Linked DNA regions of Homo sapiens. The protein of the gene in region 2 purifies or fractionates together with the protein of the main gene of each other region. This does not show direct contact. Each region holds a gene or a part of one and is shown on either strand. Other genes may lie near its edges.

What was found.
Region 1: the proteins of PHLDB3 (region 2) and DZIP3 purify together in Homo sapiens (affinity purification with mass spectrometry, with the first as the bait; one large-scale study listed by BioGRID). This does not show direct contact.
Region 3: the proteins of PHLDB3 (region 2) and GOLGA5 purify together in Homo sapiens (affinity purification with mass spectrometry, with the first as the bait; one large-scale study listed by BioGRID). This does not show direct contact.
Region 4: the proteins of PHLDB3 (region 2) and GRIPAP1 purify together in Homo sapiens (affinity purification with mass spectrometry, with the first as the bait; one large-scale study listed by BioGRID). This does not show direct contact.

Annotation. Positions count from the first base shown.
Region 1 is NC_000003.12:108,592,722-108,596,221, reverse strand, and holds part of DZIP3 (E3 ubiquitin-protein ligase DZIP3), read right to left. Parts: intron 1-3,500. UniProt on the Homo sapiens protein: E3 Ubiquitin ligase proteins mediate ubiquitination and subsequent proteasomal degradation of target proteins.
Region 2 is NC_000019.10:43,487,747-43,491,246, forward strand, and holds part of PHLDB3 (pleckstrin homology-like domain family B member 3), read right to left. Parts: intron 1-3,500.
Region 3 is NC_000014.9:92,792,937-92,797,104, reverse strand, and holds the start of GOLGA5 (golgin subfamily A member 5), read right to left. Parts: upstream 2,801-4,168; 5' UTR 2,649-2,800; exon of another isoform or gene 2,112-2,648; intron 1-2,111. UniProt on the Homo sapiens protein: Involved in maintaining Golgi structure. Stimulates the formation of Golgi stacks and ribbons. Involved in intra-Golgi retrograde transport.
Region 4 is NC_000023.11:48,978,265-48,981,764, forward strand, and holds part of GRIPAP1 (GRIP1-associated protein 1), read right to left. Parts: intron 3,428-3,500; coding exon 3,332-3,427; intron 3,209-3,331; coding exon 3,152-3,208; intron 3,051-3,151; coding exon 2,951-3,050; intron 172-2,950; coding exon 41-171; intron 1-40. UniProt on the Homo sapiens protein: Regulates the endosomal recycling back to the neuronal plasma membrane, possibly by connecting early and late recycling endosomal domains and promoting segregation of recycling endosomes from early endosomal membranes.

The DNA.
Region 1 (3,500 bases), on a different chromosome or scaffold from region 2:
GAGCAGACAAACTGCAGTCAACCACAAATCTGTGGGCAAGAAATAAACGCTCATGGTCTCAACCACTGTGTTTTGAGGTGATTTGTTATTTGGCATACATCAATTAGTACTCCATCCTATCTAAAATTGTAACACCTTATCCTGACTTTGATACTTCCTATTCCTCCTCCCTTTTTTCACTCCCTAATACTTACCGCTATCATTCATGTAATTTTACTTATATGCCTTATTGTCTATATCCTCCATTATAAGAAAACAACTTGGGCAGAAATTTTTGTCTATTTGATTCATTGCTGTATTCCCAGAACCTAGAAATGGACCTAGCATCAAGTGTTCATTAAATATACAGGAGATGAATGAATGAACAATTAGCCCTGTGTTCACACCCCGGTATAATTCCCATATTACAAAACTTAGTATTCTGCAAACTCTGCAGTTCTGTCAAAGCTATAATTCAAGTCTTCATTCAGTCTAATTCATCTACTATTACTTAAACCCTGGTTACTAGAGATTATATATTCAGGATAGAAGACAATATGTTCTTTCTAGATTTTTCCAGAAGAAATAAAGGAGCTAGACAGCCCTAAATTTGAGTTACAAGATGCCGAGCAAGTGTTATTTACTTCCATCAGGTGTATTTCTGAAACTATAAATTACGGAAAATATCTATGCAAAATCTAAAGTACAGACAAGTAATAAAACTTTACAGGTGGGTGTGGTGGCTCATGTCTGTAATCCCAGCACTTTGGAAGGCTGAGGCAGGATTGCTTGAGGCCAGCAGATTGAGTCCAGCCTAGGCAACATAGCAAGACCCTGTCTCTAAAAAAAATTTAAAAATTAGGCAGGTGTGGTGGTGCATGCCTGTAGTCCCAGCTACTCAGAGGCTAAAGTGGGAGGATTACTTGAGCCCAGGAGCTAGAGGCTGCAATAAGCTATTAATCATGCCACTGCACTCCAGTCTGGGCAACCAAGTGAGATGCTGTCTCCCCTACAAAACAACAACAACAACAACAACAAAATCACAAAGAGAAATTTTATGCTAATCTTTGAAGAATGAAGGAAGTGGATACTTAATATTTTACCCTAAAAAATACCATGTGTTTCCACAGTATTCTATTTCTCTTAACAGTACTTATTCTGGTTTGTCTATTTCACCAACAAAATCTAATCTCTTTGAAAAAGAACTGGCATTCAATAAACATTTGATGAATAAATGACTATTAGCATTTAAAAATGTATTTACCTGACTGGTTAAAACTATTATACATTTTTTAAGTGAAATGGAGATGTTTACTTTAGCTACTGTCTTTTTAAAAGTTTTTGGTCTATTAGCCTTTACTTTCTGCTGTGAAGAAAAAAACACAAAACAAAACCAAAATATAAAATACATGGCATAAAATAAATGATTTTTATTTAAAAATATACTAAGGAATGCAGCCATAAAAAAGAACGAGATCATGTCCTTTTCAGGAACATGCGTGGATCTGAAGGCCATTATCCTTAGCAAATTAATGCAAGAAAATCAAATACCGCATATTCTTACTCATAAATGGGAGCAAAACGGAAAGAACACATAGACACATACAGGGGAACAACACACATTGGGCACTATCGGAGGGCAGAGGGTGGGAGGAGGAAGAGGATTAGGAAAAATAACTAACAGGTACTAGGCTTAAAACCTGGGTGATGAAGTCATCTGTACAACAAACTCCCATGACACAAGTTTACCTATGTAACAAACCTGCACATGTACCCCAAACTTGAAAGTTATATATATATGGGGGGGGAGCAGGGAGGGAGGGGGGAGGGGAGGGGGGAGAGAGAGAGAGAGAGATGTCCTAAGACTTCAACTTTTAAAAACCTAGGTGTACTAAGACTTCAACTTTTAAAAACCTAGAAAAACAACAAAGTAAATAAAAGATGAATGTATACGGATGAAATTAATAAAGACAACAGTGGTGATTCTGAAATCAAAGAAAAATGAGAATTAATAAAATGAAAGTTGGTTCTTGAAAAGCTGAATAAAATGGACAAACCCTTGGAAAGCCCAACTAAGAAAAAAATATAGATAACATTAGAATGAAAATGGAAATTTAAAACTACTAAGAGATTAAGAGAATTACTGGAATGCTGAATGCAACTTTTTATCGGTAAATTTTTAATATAGAGAAGCAATTATTATGCTAAAAAGCTCTATATCTACAATTAAGGAAAGGCAGAATAAATGATCAGATCCGTAACTATACTAGAAATTCAAGCTCAGGCATGTTAGCTCATGCCTATAATCCCAGGACTTTAGGAAGCTGAGGCGAGCGGATCACTCGAGACCAGGAGTTCGAGACCAGCGTGCGCAACATGGTGAAACCCCATCTCTACAAAAAATAGAAAAATTATCCTGGCATAGCGGGGCATGCCTGTGTTCCCAGGGAGGATGAGGTGGGAAGATAAGCCCGGGGAGGTCAAGGCTGCAATGAGCCGTGATCATGCCACTGCACTCCAGCCTGGGCAACAGAGTGAAACCATATTAAAAAAAAAAAAAAAAAAAGAAAGAAATTCAAATATTTGCTAAATTTCTACCATCTACCACTAAATAAGCTATCAAGCTTAATGATTTTACAAGACAGCTGTGTACAGCCTACAAGGATCAGATAATTTCTATGATTCTTATTATCCCATAGCATAAAAAAAGATGAAACACTTCCAATTTCTTTTTCAATGGTAACATATAATTCAAATTTGATGTGAGAATAAAGAAAAATATTACTGAAAATGCTCACTTATGAACAGGTATATAATAAAATCCTGAATAAAATACCAGCAAATCAAAACCTGAAGCAAAGAAAAACATAGGATTGTTACTACTGTCTACGTGACCTTGGGCAAATTACTTCCCCTTCCTATCTTAGTTTTTTCATCTCTAGAATGGAAATCATAATAGTTCCTACAGCATGGGGTTGTTATAAAGATTAGATAGGTAAGTAGAAAGTCCTTAGGACAGTGCTTGGCACATGGCAAATGCTCAATAAGTGTAAACTATTATTATCCCAAGAACAAAAAGGCAACATAATCCACTGTGTTATAATTTTAAAGTGAAAAATAAAATATATAAATGTGAAAACTGGATAATTTTTGGCAGACATTTTTTAGAATGAAACAGATATAAAAGCCAATCTCTTAAACATGATGAATATCAAAAGCCAATAGCACAAATTATACTGTGTTAAAACACTGTTCATTCTCATTAAATTATGTAAAAAAGCTGTTCAAAGTTAACATGATTTTCCATATTTTGGAGCTTACACTAATGCAATAATGTAAGACAACAAATACTGGAAGGGGTGAGGTAATTATTTGCAGATGATATATAGGCAGAAAGTCTAAGTAAACCAATCTCTATTAGAATAAACGTAATGATAAATAAACATAATAAGAATGGAACAAGACAGTATGACAAACTATATAAAATCTCACTGAACATAAAATATAACCTGAATACTTTT
Region 2 (3,500 bases):
ATTGTGGTAATGTTTGCGCAACGTTGAATATACTAAAAGACACAGAACTGTACATTTTAAATGAATGAATTGTATAGGGACGTGAATTATGCCTCAATAAAACTCTTTCTAAAAATCCCACTGTGGGCCAGGTGTGGTGGCTCACACCTGTAATCCCAGCACTTTGGGAGGCCGAGGCGGGTGAATAACTTGAGGTCAGGCGTTTGAGACCAGCCAGGCCAACATGGTGAAACCCCGTCTCTACTAAAAATACAAAAATTAGCCAGGTGTGGTGGCACATGCCTGTAATCCCAGCTTTTCAGGAGGCTGAGGCAGGAGAATTGCTTGAACCTGGGAGGCAAAGGTTCCAGTGAGCCGAGATCTCGCCACTGAAATCCAGGCTGGACGACAGAGCGAGACTCTGTCGCAAAAAAAAAAAAGTCCCACTGCAGCCAGGCGCAGTGGCTCACACCTATAATGCCAGCACTTTGAGGCTGAGGCAGGCAAATTGCTTGAGCCCAGGAGTTGGAGATGAGCCTGGGCAACATGGTGAAACTCTGTCTCTACAAAAAAATAGAAAAATTAGCTGGGCATAGTGGCACGTGCCTGCAGTCCCAGCTACTGTGGAGGCTGACGTGGAAGGATCGCTTGAACCCCGGAGGTCAAGGTTGCAGGGAGCTGAGATTGTGCCACTGCGCTCCAGTCTGGGCGACAGAGTGACAGCCTGTCTCAAAAAAAATAAGTAAAACAAAAAAACAAAAAACCCACCGTGCTGGTGGCTATGTAGGAAACCCAGATGCCCTCACATGATACTGGGGGTGTTCTACTGGAACAAGCTTTATGGAGGGCAACTTGGCTTTTTTAAAAAAAATCTGAATGACAAATGCATAAACCATGGAGCCCCAATTCCAATTCTAGAAATTCAGCGGATGGATACACTCATACACATGCAAAGTGATCTGAGTTCAAGGTGATTCCCTGCAGTGCCATCTGTGCTAGCAAAAGCCTGGAGACCACCTAAATGCCCATCAGAAGGGGACAAGGTAAATGAACCATGGCTTATGCACTCCATAGACCATTTTTTTTTTTTTTGAGTTGGAGTCTCACTCTGTTGCCCAGGCTGGAGTGCAGTAGCACAATCTCGGCTCATTGCAACCTCCGCCTCCTGGGTTCAAGCGATTCTTCTGCCTCAGCCTCACGAGTAGCTGGGATTACAGGCATGTGCCACCACGCCAGGCTAATTTTTGTATTTTTAGTAGAGATGGGGTTTCACCATATTGGCCAGGCTGGTCTCGAACTCCTGACTTCAAGTGATCCACCTGCCTCGGCCTCCCAAAGTGCTGGGATTACAGGCGTGAGCCACCGCACCCAAGTGACTCTAAGGACAATTCTGCAGTGTAGAACAAGAGGAAGATGCATCCTACATCCAGGTAGAACATAATATCCAAAAAAGAAAAGAAAAAAAACAGAACATAATATCCAAGAGAAAACCAAGGCCAGGTGTGGTAGCGTGCACCTGTAGTCCCAGCTACTCAGGAGGCTGAGGTGGGAGGATCACTTGAGCCCAGGAGGTTGACCCTGCAGTGAGCCATGATCATGCCACTGCACTCCAGCCTGGGCGACAGTGAGATCTATCTCTTAAAGTTTTTTTTTTTTTTTTTTTAAGCGAGTACAGAACAGCATAGAATAAACTAGGTATGCATAAAAGAGGGAGAAAGTACATACATGACTAGCTGTGTCAACACAGAATATCTCTGGGGAACACATGGGAAATTGGTAACCCTGGTGGCCCTCAGGAAGTGAACAGCGTAGGAGGGGGAACAAGAGCCGCAGAGTCTTCTCTGAATATCCTCCCACACCATGTGAATTTTGAACGAGGAGAATGTTAACTTTTTAAAAGCAAATAAACATGACAACTAAATGCAACCTGTGTTCCTGAGCCAAGAAAAAAAAAGTTTGTTTTTTTTTGTGAATTTTTTGCTAGAAAAAACACTGGTGGGGCCAGGAACAGTGGCTCATGCCTGTAATCCCAGCACTCTGGAAGGCCGAGGCAGGCAGATCACCTGAGGTCAGGAGTTCGAGACCAGCCTGGCCAACATGGTGAAACCCCGTCTCTACTAAAAATACAAAAATAAGCTGGGCGTGGTGGTGGGCACCTGTAATTCCAGCTACTCGGGAGTCTGAGGCAGGAGAATCACTTGAACCAGGGAGGCAGTGGTTGCAGTGAGCCGAGATCACACCACTGCACTCCAGCCTGAGCGGCAGAGCAAGACTCTGCCAAAAAGGAAAAAAAAAAAGAAAGAGCAAGAGAGAGAAAAAGGAAGGAAGGAAGGAAGGAAGGGAAGGAGGAAGGGAGGGAGGGAGGGAAAAACATTGGTGGAACAACTGACAAAATACAAATAAGGTCTGTGGATTCTAATAGTGTTGTCTCAGTGGTAGTTTCCTGAAATCGATCATTGAACTGTGGTTGTGTAAGAGAATGGGCTTGACATTAGGTAGTAAATTTAGGAATATTTAGGGGTTAAGGGGAATCATGGGTAAGAAAATAATGGGCCAGGCATGAAGGCTCACACCTGTAATCCTAGCACTTTGGGAGGTCCAGGGAAGGCAGATCACTTTAGCTCAGGAATTTGAGACCAGACTGGGGCAATATAGTGAGACCCCATGTCTACAAAGAATACAAAAATTAGCCTGGCGCATGTCTGTAATCCCAGCTACTTGGGGGGCTGAGGCAGGAGAATCGCTTGAGTCTGGGAGGTAGAGGCTGCAGTGAGCCAAGATCGCACCATTACACTCCACTCCAGCCTGGGCGACAGAGCGAGACTGTCTCAAAAATTGAAAACTAAAAAAAATAAAAACTCTGGGAGTTGAGAAATGTTAGCTCCACTTCACAGAGAAGAAACTGAGGCTCAAATCCCCGTGCTTTACTTGACTTTTTCCTTCCTTCCAGCCACATTCCCAGCACTTCCTAGCTGGGAGATATTAGATACTTGGCACTGAGGAACCAAGTGGGCAGGTCAGACCCCAGCTTTGTCTGCAGGGCACTTATGTTGTAGGAACTGCATAAGCCATCAGCAGGCCATAGAAACAGGCCGGTTCGGGTTCAAATCCCAGCTCTGCCACTTCCTGGGTGCATGACGTAGGCAAGTCATTTCTCTTCTCAAGCGAGGTGTCCTCTCTGTAAAGTGGGTAACATCTCACTGCCCTTCCTGGGTTGTTGCAAGGATTAAATGAGTGACCTCCTGCAATGCATGTAGAAGCATGCATGGCCCCCAGGTGAGATCCAGGAGCTAAGCAATGATCCACATTGGTGGGTACAGGGTGCACCTGGGCTTAGAGGCCTTCTGTGCACAGGGGCCAACAAGTCAGGTGACAACTCCATAGGACTGGACATGGCGTCCCACCAAATATTTTCATATATGCAATTTACTAATAAGGGTAATTGCTATCCTAAGTCACGTTGCCTGGCAACACAGCTGACACCTACCTTCATCAGGTTTCCAGGGGAAGCAGCCAGAAAG
Region 3 (4,168 bases), on a different chromosome or scaffold from region 2:
CACTACTGTTTTTATTATTATTTCTATTTTTATTATTTATTATTACTATTTCAAAGTAATAATAAATTACTGTTTTTATTATTACTATTTCAAAGAAGGGCAAATCTTTTTTTTTTTTTTTTTTTTTTGAGACGGAGTCTCGCTCTGTCGCCCAGGCCGGACTGCGGACTGCAGTGGCGCAATCTCGGCTCACTGCAAGCTCCGCTTCCCGGGTTCACGCCACTCTCCTGCCTCAGCCTCCCGAGTAGCTGGGACTACAGGCACCCGCCACCGCGCCCGGCTAATTTTTTGTATTTCTAGTAGAGACGGGGTTTCACCTTGTTAGCCGGGATGGTCTCGATCTCCTGACCTCATGATCCACCCGCCTCGGCCTCCCAAAGTGCGGGGATTACAGGCGTGAGCCACCGCGCCCGGCCGGGCAAATCTTAATGTAGCAAAAGCATCTGTTATGGGCTGAACTGCATCCCTCCAAATTCCTTTATTTAAGTCCTAACCCCCAGACCTCAGAATGTGACTGTTTTTGGAGATAGGATCTCTAAAAGGATAATTAAAATGAGTCGTCAGGGTGGCCCCTAATCAAATATAATTGGCATGTCCTTCTAAGAGGAGGAAATTTCAACACAAACAGGCATACAGAAAGGACAGAGGGAGAAGGCAGACATCTGCAAGCAAAAGAAGTACGCCTCAGAAGAAACCAACTCTGCCAATACCTTGATCTTGGACTTCAAGTCTTCAGAACTGAGAGAAAATAAATTTCTGTTGGCCCAGCCAATCAATCTGTGGTACTTTGCTACAGCAGCAAATTAAAACAACATCCAAACAGCAAATAACCAATATGGCAAAACTCCAGTACAACCAAATAAAAATAAAATTCACTGAAGTTTGTTTTAAAGTGCTAAAACTTGAAAAAACGTTTCCGTTAAATACAAAAGCTATCTTAATGTTAAACTGCAGCACTATTACATATAATTTAGGTGTGCACATAATTTATCTAAAGTACATGTTCAATAATTCACATACTCAATACCTACCATGTGCACATTAAGCTAAGTCCAGAATAAAAACCAAAATTGCATAACCACTCATTCCATACATATATTTGAGTACTTATTGTGTGCCACAATACATCAAAGTAATGATGAAGATATAGATACAGAAGGGCTCTATAATAAAGTCCACAACCATTTCTAGAATGTGCACGTTGTTCCTTTTGCCAAGAACTCTTTCATGGTTAACTTTCTTGTTCTTGGTCTTCACTCAAATGTCATTTGCTTCAGAGTTCTCCTTTCCAGCTAAGTTAGGTCAATCATTATCTGTACATACCCTATTCTTTTGCTTCACAGTCCTTCATGTTTTATAATTACGTATTTTTTTAACATGCTTCTTGTTCTTGGGGAAAGTGGGGCAGTGGCTGGATAAAGATTATGTCTGTTTTGCTCACCAATGAATTCCCAGAGTCTAGCACACAGTAGGCACTCACAAATACTGCTGAGTGGAATTTTTATATGACTGATGCTGTACACAGGTACACATGTATCTTTTATCACATGTAATTTTCACAGCCACGTTATGTGGTAAACAGCAATATCCTTTTTTTAAAGCAAATGTGGAAAGGGTTTAGAAAGATCCCAGAGTTTAGACAGCAGCTCAGATACTCAAGTCTAAGTTACCCTAGTGCCAAACCTACTTTTAACCCTTGCCTCCCTATACCATACAGCTCAAAATCTAAAAAACCTCAAGAAGAAACTCATCCTTTAAATCTGTTCTTTACACATGTGACTATTAAATGCCTATGTATTTCGGAGTTTATAAAAAATCAAATGAAAATGGAGATGAAATGCTCTGTAACATACAGAACACCATACAGGCCAGGCACTGTGGCTCACGCCTGTAATCCCAACACACTGGGAGGCCGAGCGGGGAGGACCACTTGAGGCCAGGAGTTTGAGACCAGCCTGGGCAACATGGCAAGACCCTGTCTCTACAAAAAAAGTAATAAAAAATCAAAACACGCTCATTAATTCTTTATATCTTGCCTCCCATTTCAAAATTAATTGGGCTTTAAAACATACCATGCAACTGCTACTAATGTTGCAATTAATGTCGATTACCTAATTAAATACTTAGATGGGCCCTGGGCAAACATCTCAAAGACACGAAGGACTTCAGAGGCACCCGTCAATTCCCCAGACACTGCCCAGGGGCAGAGAGTGCGTGGGATGGGGATGGGTCTGCAAAGGGCTGCGGCAGGGCCTGCTTCGAAGGCCAGGCGTCAGCACAGAGGGAGGGAGGCTGGAGGTCAGTCGGTCAGGCCCAGTCCGTAGAGCCCTGGGGTCTGTCAGTTTGGGGAATCTCAGGTAAGCGAGCAGAGACCCCCACTCTGCTCCCCACCCATCTCGTTCCGTGCGGGAAGAACGGCCAGGCCAGGCAGGGGTCAGGAGAAAGGAAGACAGAGGAGGGCAGTAAACGACGTCGGCTGAAGCCCAAGGAGTCTCTCCAGTTACCCTCCTCAGCCCCTAACAGGGCGAAGATGAGCGCGACCCGAAAGAAAACGGAGAGACCAGGGTCTCCACTGAAGGGACTGCGCCCCCGCTCCTAGGACCGTTAACACCCCCGTCTCGTCCAGTGGGCCCTCGCCTCCGCCTCACCTGAGGACTCCGGAGAGGCTGCACTACGGCCTAGCCGCCGTCCTGGGCCGCGCCCCCTCGGCGGCTGGCCCGGAGGGGGCCCAAGCTGAGTAAACCTCCTCCCCGACCCGCCGGGGCCCTGCTACCGCTTCCGGGAGACGTGGAAGGGAAGCGAGGACCCCACAACAGAGTGGCTTTCGAGCTGCCTGCACGGCAGGGAGACGCGAACAGCCACCTGCAGGCGACTCAGGCGGTGGCGCTGGCGGCTACGGGGTCCTCGCGCATGGCCACGCCCCTTTTCCGCCCGCGGCGAGAACAGGCGCGGCGCATGGCCTGCGTGCGTGTGACGTGGCTCGCCGCCGGTGGACGGCCCGCACGCCGTGAAAGGCCACACCCACAAAGGGCGGGGCCTTACTGCGGGCCACGTGGGTGACCAAAGGCGGTGCCCAGCCTGGAAGGAACGCGAGGCCTGAGTTGGGCGGGGCTTGAGACCCGGGTGGACCGGCTAGACCTCGTGTTTCTCCCTTTCCTCACCATCTCCCCTAAGTTTTACAGACGAGAATGCCAGAGGTCCACGGCAGAAGGTGGAAATAAGAAAACATGATCCGGATTGCATGGCGCTTACTTTCTAGTGGCAGAGACAGATATTACGTAACAGTGAATGGACAAGACAATTTCAGGGCGTTACCAGAGTTGTAACGACAAGAAAACGGGGAAAAGTGACTGGAGGCACGGGAGGTACTTTAAATCAGGTGGTCAGGGAAGGTCTCTCTGAGAAGATGATATTTGAGCTGAGACCCAAAGGATGGAAAAGGCAGTATTGTGGTTATGTTATGCATACAGTTCATTGACTATCTGAAATAAGTCTAAAATCCACATTCACTAATTCAAATACTCAGCACCCACTATGTGTACAGGATTGGGCTAACTTGGCCCTAATGACAAGCCTACAACACAGTTCCAAGTCTCAAATCTTTGAATTGAGGAAAGTAAGGTTCAAACAGTTTAAATAACTTGTCTAAGATCATCTGTCCTAATAAGGAGTCCACATTACTCCAAAGCCTATTCCTCGTAGACTCAAAGCTTTATTGTCTCCAAATTAAATATTGGAAGTAATTACAGCTCCTGCTTTTATTGCTCTCAGGTGAGGTTTAGCCCAGTACGGTGAAGAGAAAAATTTTCAGCAGCACCAGGAGGTGGTAATCATAATAATGGCATCTAACATTTATCAAACCTTTTATTAAGTGTAGAATACTGTGTTAAGCATTGCATGTGCCTCACTTCATTTTAATCTCACATGCATAAGGAAGGTACTATTATTCTCTGGTAGGTGGTATTGTTGTTCCTAACTATTAAGTTGCTTTTCCAGTTAAGGATTACACATCATCGCCCGTTGCCATGCGACTGCAGTGCATCCTGTAGGAGGAGCATTCTTTCCAGCCTCACTGATGTCAGGCTTGATTGTATGATCTTCTTTTGGCAGGGGGTCTTTCTGAGCAGTAGTATTAACAGTTATTACGTATTTCAACCAGAGAAATTTT
Region 4 (3,500 bases), on a different chromosome or scaffold from region 2:
TGAGAGAAGCTGGAGCTGTAGGTTCTTCCTTTCCCCTTACCCTGGCTGGAACAGCCGAGCTCTCCTTTTCCCGCAAGATCTCCCGGTAGCTGAAGGAGGAGATGCTACTGCTGTCCCCTGTCTGGGTCCGGCTTGGTGAGTTCATCTCTGAGAGAACCAGCTCCTCAAGGCCTGGGTGGTGGAGGGAAGAGAAACTTGAGCCCCAATACCCCTGAGTCCCAGGGCAGCAACCAGCAGGAAGAGGCAGAAATAGATTTAACAGAGATGGAAAGAGAGACACCTGGGCATGGGGAAAGGCAGAAGCAGACAGGAGGACAGGGAGAGACAGAGACAGAAAAAAGAGCTGAGGCTGGGCGCACTGGCTCACACCTGTAATCCCAGCACTTTGGGAGGCTGAGGTGGGCTGATCACTTGATGTCAGGAGTTCGAGAACAGCCTGGCCAACATGAAGAAACCCCGTCTCTACTAAAAATACAAAAATTAGCCAGGTGTGGTTGTGTGTGCCTGTAATTCCAGCGATTCAGGAGGCTGAGGCAGGAGAATCGCTTGAACCCAAGGAGGCGGAGGTTACAGTGAGCCGAAATCGCACCATTGCACTCCAGCCTGGGTGACAGAGTGAGACTCTTGTCTCAAAAAAAAAAAAAAAAAAAACAGAAAGAAAAGAAAGAGCTGCCTTTCTGGAGAAACACATACAAAATGAGAGGGAGAAAATGGAAGAGGTTGGAGAAAGAGAACGACATGGGTACACATGGGTCTCAAGTGGCAGACACACTTGGACACAGGGTTCAGAGAAAGGAAGACAGCTAGAGAGGGCACAGGGCACATCCACTTGCAGAAAGAAAATGCCAGAGATGGAAAGCCAGAGCAGATGATAGAAACTGAGACCCTGGTGAAAGAAGTGAGCCAGAGCAGAGACAGAGAGAAAAAAAGATGCCGGGCGCGGTGGCTCACGCCTGTAATCCCAGCACTTTGGGAGGCCGAGGCGGGCAGATCACGAGGTCAGGAGATCGAGACCATCCTGGCTAAAACGGTGAAACCCCGTCTCTACTAAAAATACAAAAAATTAGGTGGGCGTGGTGGCGGGTGCCTGTAGTCCCAGCTACTTGGGAGGCTGAGGCAGGAGAATGGTGTGAACCCGGGAGGCGGAGGTTGCAGTGAGCCGAGATCGCGCCACTGCACTCCAGCCTGGGCGACAGAGCGAGACTCCGTCTAACAAAAAAAAAAAAAAAAAAAAAAAAGAAATGCAAGCAGGCTCTCGTACCCACGCACCTAAATCTCAGTTTAATCTAATGGACAAGGTGAATGTATTGAATGTATGGTATACGATTGTAACGTTTCCCAAGATTATTATTATTATTATTTTTTAGACAGAGTTTCAGTCTTGTCGCCCAGGCTGGAGTACAATGGCGCAATCTCGGCTCACTGCAACCCCTGCCTCCTGGGTTCAGGCAATTCTCCTGACTCAGCCTCCCGAAGTAGCTGGGATTACAGGCGCCCGCCACCACACCCAGCTAATTTTTTGTATTTTCAGTTGAGACGGGGTTTCACCGTGTTGGCCAGGCTGGTCTTGAACCCCTGACCTCAGGTGATCCACCCACCTTGGCCTCCCAAAGTGCTGGGATTACACCTTTCCCAAGATTCTTACATTCATCTGTGATAAAACAGAAACAAAACTCCTTTTTAAAGAAAGGTTACTTCAGGAGACCGAGTGCCTCAGAGAGAAATTGATTTGGTGAGAGATACACATCTGTTTTGCCACATCACTTAAAGCCCTCGAGGATCTCTGGCAAGGGTGGGGTGACTGAGTGGGGATCCGTAGGTATCCCGAGTGGGGGAATAAGGGACCAAGTTTTCTCTGAGTCTGTAATCTAAGAGATGCACCAGAGCCATCACTGCATTTTACTTACTTAAATGTATTTATAGGCCATCCCCGTCTTAAAAAAGGCTGAAGCAACTAAAGTTGTGTGTGTGTGTGTGTGTGTGTGTGTGTGTGTGTGTGTGTCTTCTGCTTGAAGTGGCAGAAATAACAGATTGGATTAGCTGTATAATGAAAACACCACAGCGTTGCTGACTATGTATAAGTCTGTCTCCGTAGCTCAACTGGGGGCTTCTAGAGGGCAGAGACTCAGGGAGTTTTATATCAGGGACCCTGTACTTGAGCAGGGAGATTTATAGAATGAGAGATTGTATACAATAGATTTAGAAATGCCAAGTGAGGTGTGGGAGTGTGTAATGTAGTACATACAGTGAGGAGACAGACAGAGATATAAACAGAAGAGACGAAGAGGACACAGAGTGGCGGGAAGAGATAAAGGGACAGAGAAAAGAAAGGGCGGGGGCCGGGCCCAGTGGCTCATGCCTATAATCCCAACACTTTGGGAGGCTGAGGCGGGCGGATCACCTGAGGTCGGGAGTTCGGGACCAGCCTGACCAACATGGAGAAACCCCGTCTCTACTAAAAATACAAAATTAGCTGGGCGTGGTGGTGCATGCCTGTAATCCCAGCTACTCAGGAGGCTGAGGCAGGAGAATTGCTTGAATCCAGGAGGCAGAGGTTGCGGTGAGCCGAGATCACACCATTGCACTCCAGCCTGGGCAACAAGAGCGAAACTCTGTCTCAAAAAAAAAAAAAGAGAGAGAAAAGGAGAAAACTAGAGAAAGAAAGCAAGGAGATAAAGGCAAACATAGAGGAAAGAGAGAGAACAAACTGAGACAGAGGCAGAGACAGAAACAGAGAAGAGACAGGGCAAAAACGAGAGAAAGATAGAAATAAAGAGAGAATGCAGAGAAAGAATCAGAGGAGAGACAGAGAAAAGGTAAAAGATGGAGTTCCAGAGCGACAGAAGCAGGAAAGCACAGCTGAGGAAGATGCAGGACTAACCTGCAGCCTGCAGGCCCAGGCCCTACCTCCCCCATGCCTCAGCCTCCTCTCCCTGTCCTAGTCCCTCACCTGAGCGGCTCTTGCTGTTAGTGAGGATGTCCTGCAGTCGCTCCTGCAGCTTATCTGCCCGTTTCCGCTCCAAATGCAGCTGCCGCTTGAGGTCCTTGAGCTGTGGGGGACAGGGGTAACATGAGGACTGAGGCCCAGTGGGCCCATAGGAGGGAGGCTACAGGTAGGAGGGAGCCGTGCTTGGGCACCGCTCTGTCTTACCGCAGCACTGCCCTTCTTCTCCAGGATCCTCTGCCCATCCACTGTGTCCTTCACCTCCTGTGGGAGAAAGCAGGCATGGCTGGTAGATGCCGGAAGGGCTGCCTGAAGCATGCTCCCTCCCTGCCCCTCCTGTACGCTGAGGATCAGGGGTGTGTCTGGGGCTGTGCAGTGACCACTGACCTGCTTCAGGCTGCTAATGGTCTTCAGGTGGCAGTCCCGCTCCTCCTGGGCCTGCTCGAGCTGATCCCGTACATCCTGTAGCTCCTCCTCCTTGCCCTGCAAAGCAGAAAGCAGCTTAGGCATTGGCTTGGGAAGCCTCTGTCCTCCCAGGAGGGCCCGTCACTGTCTG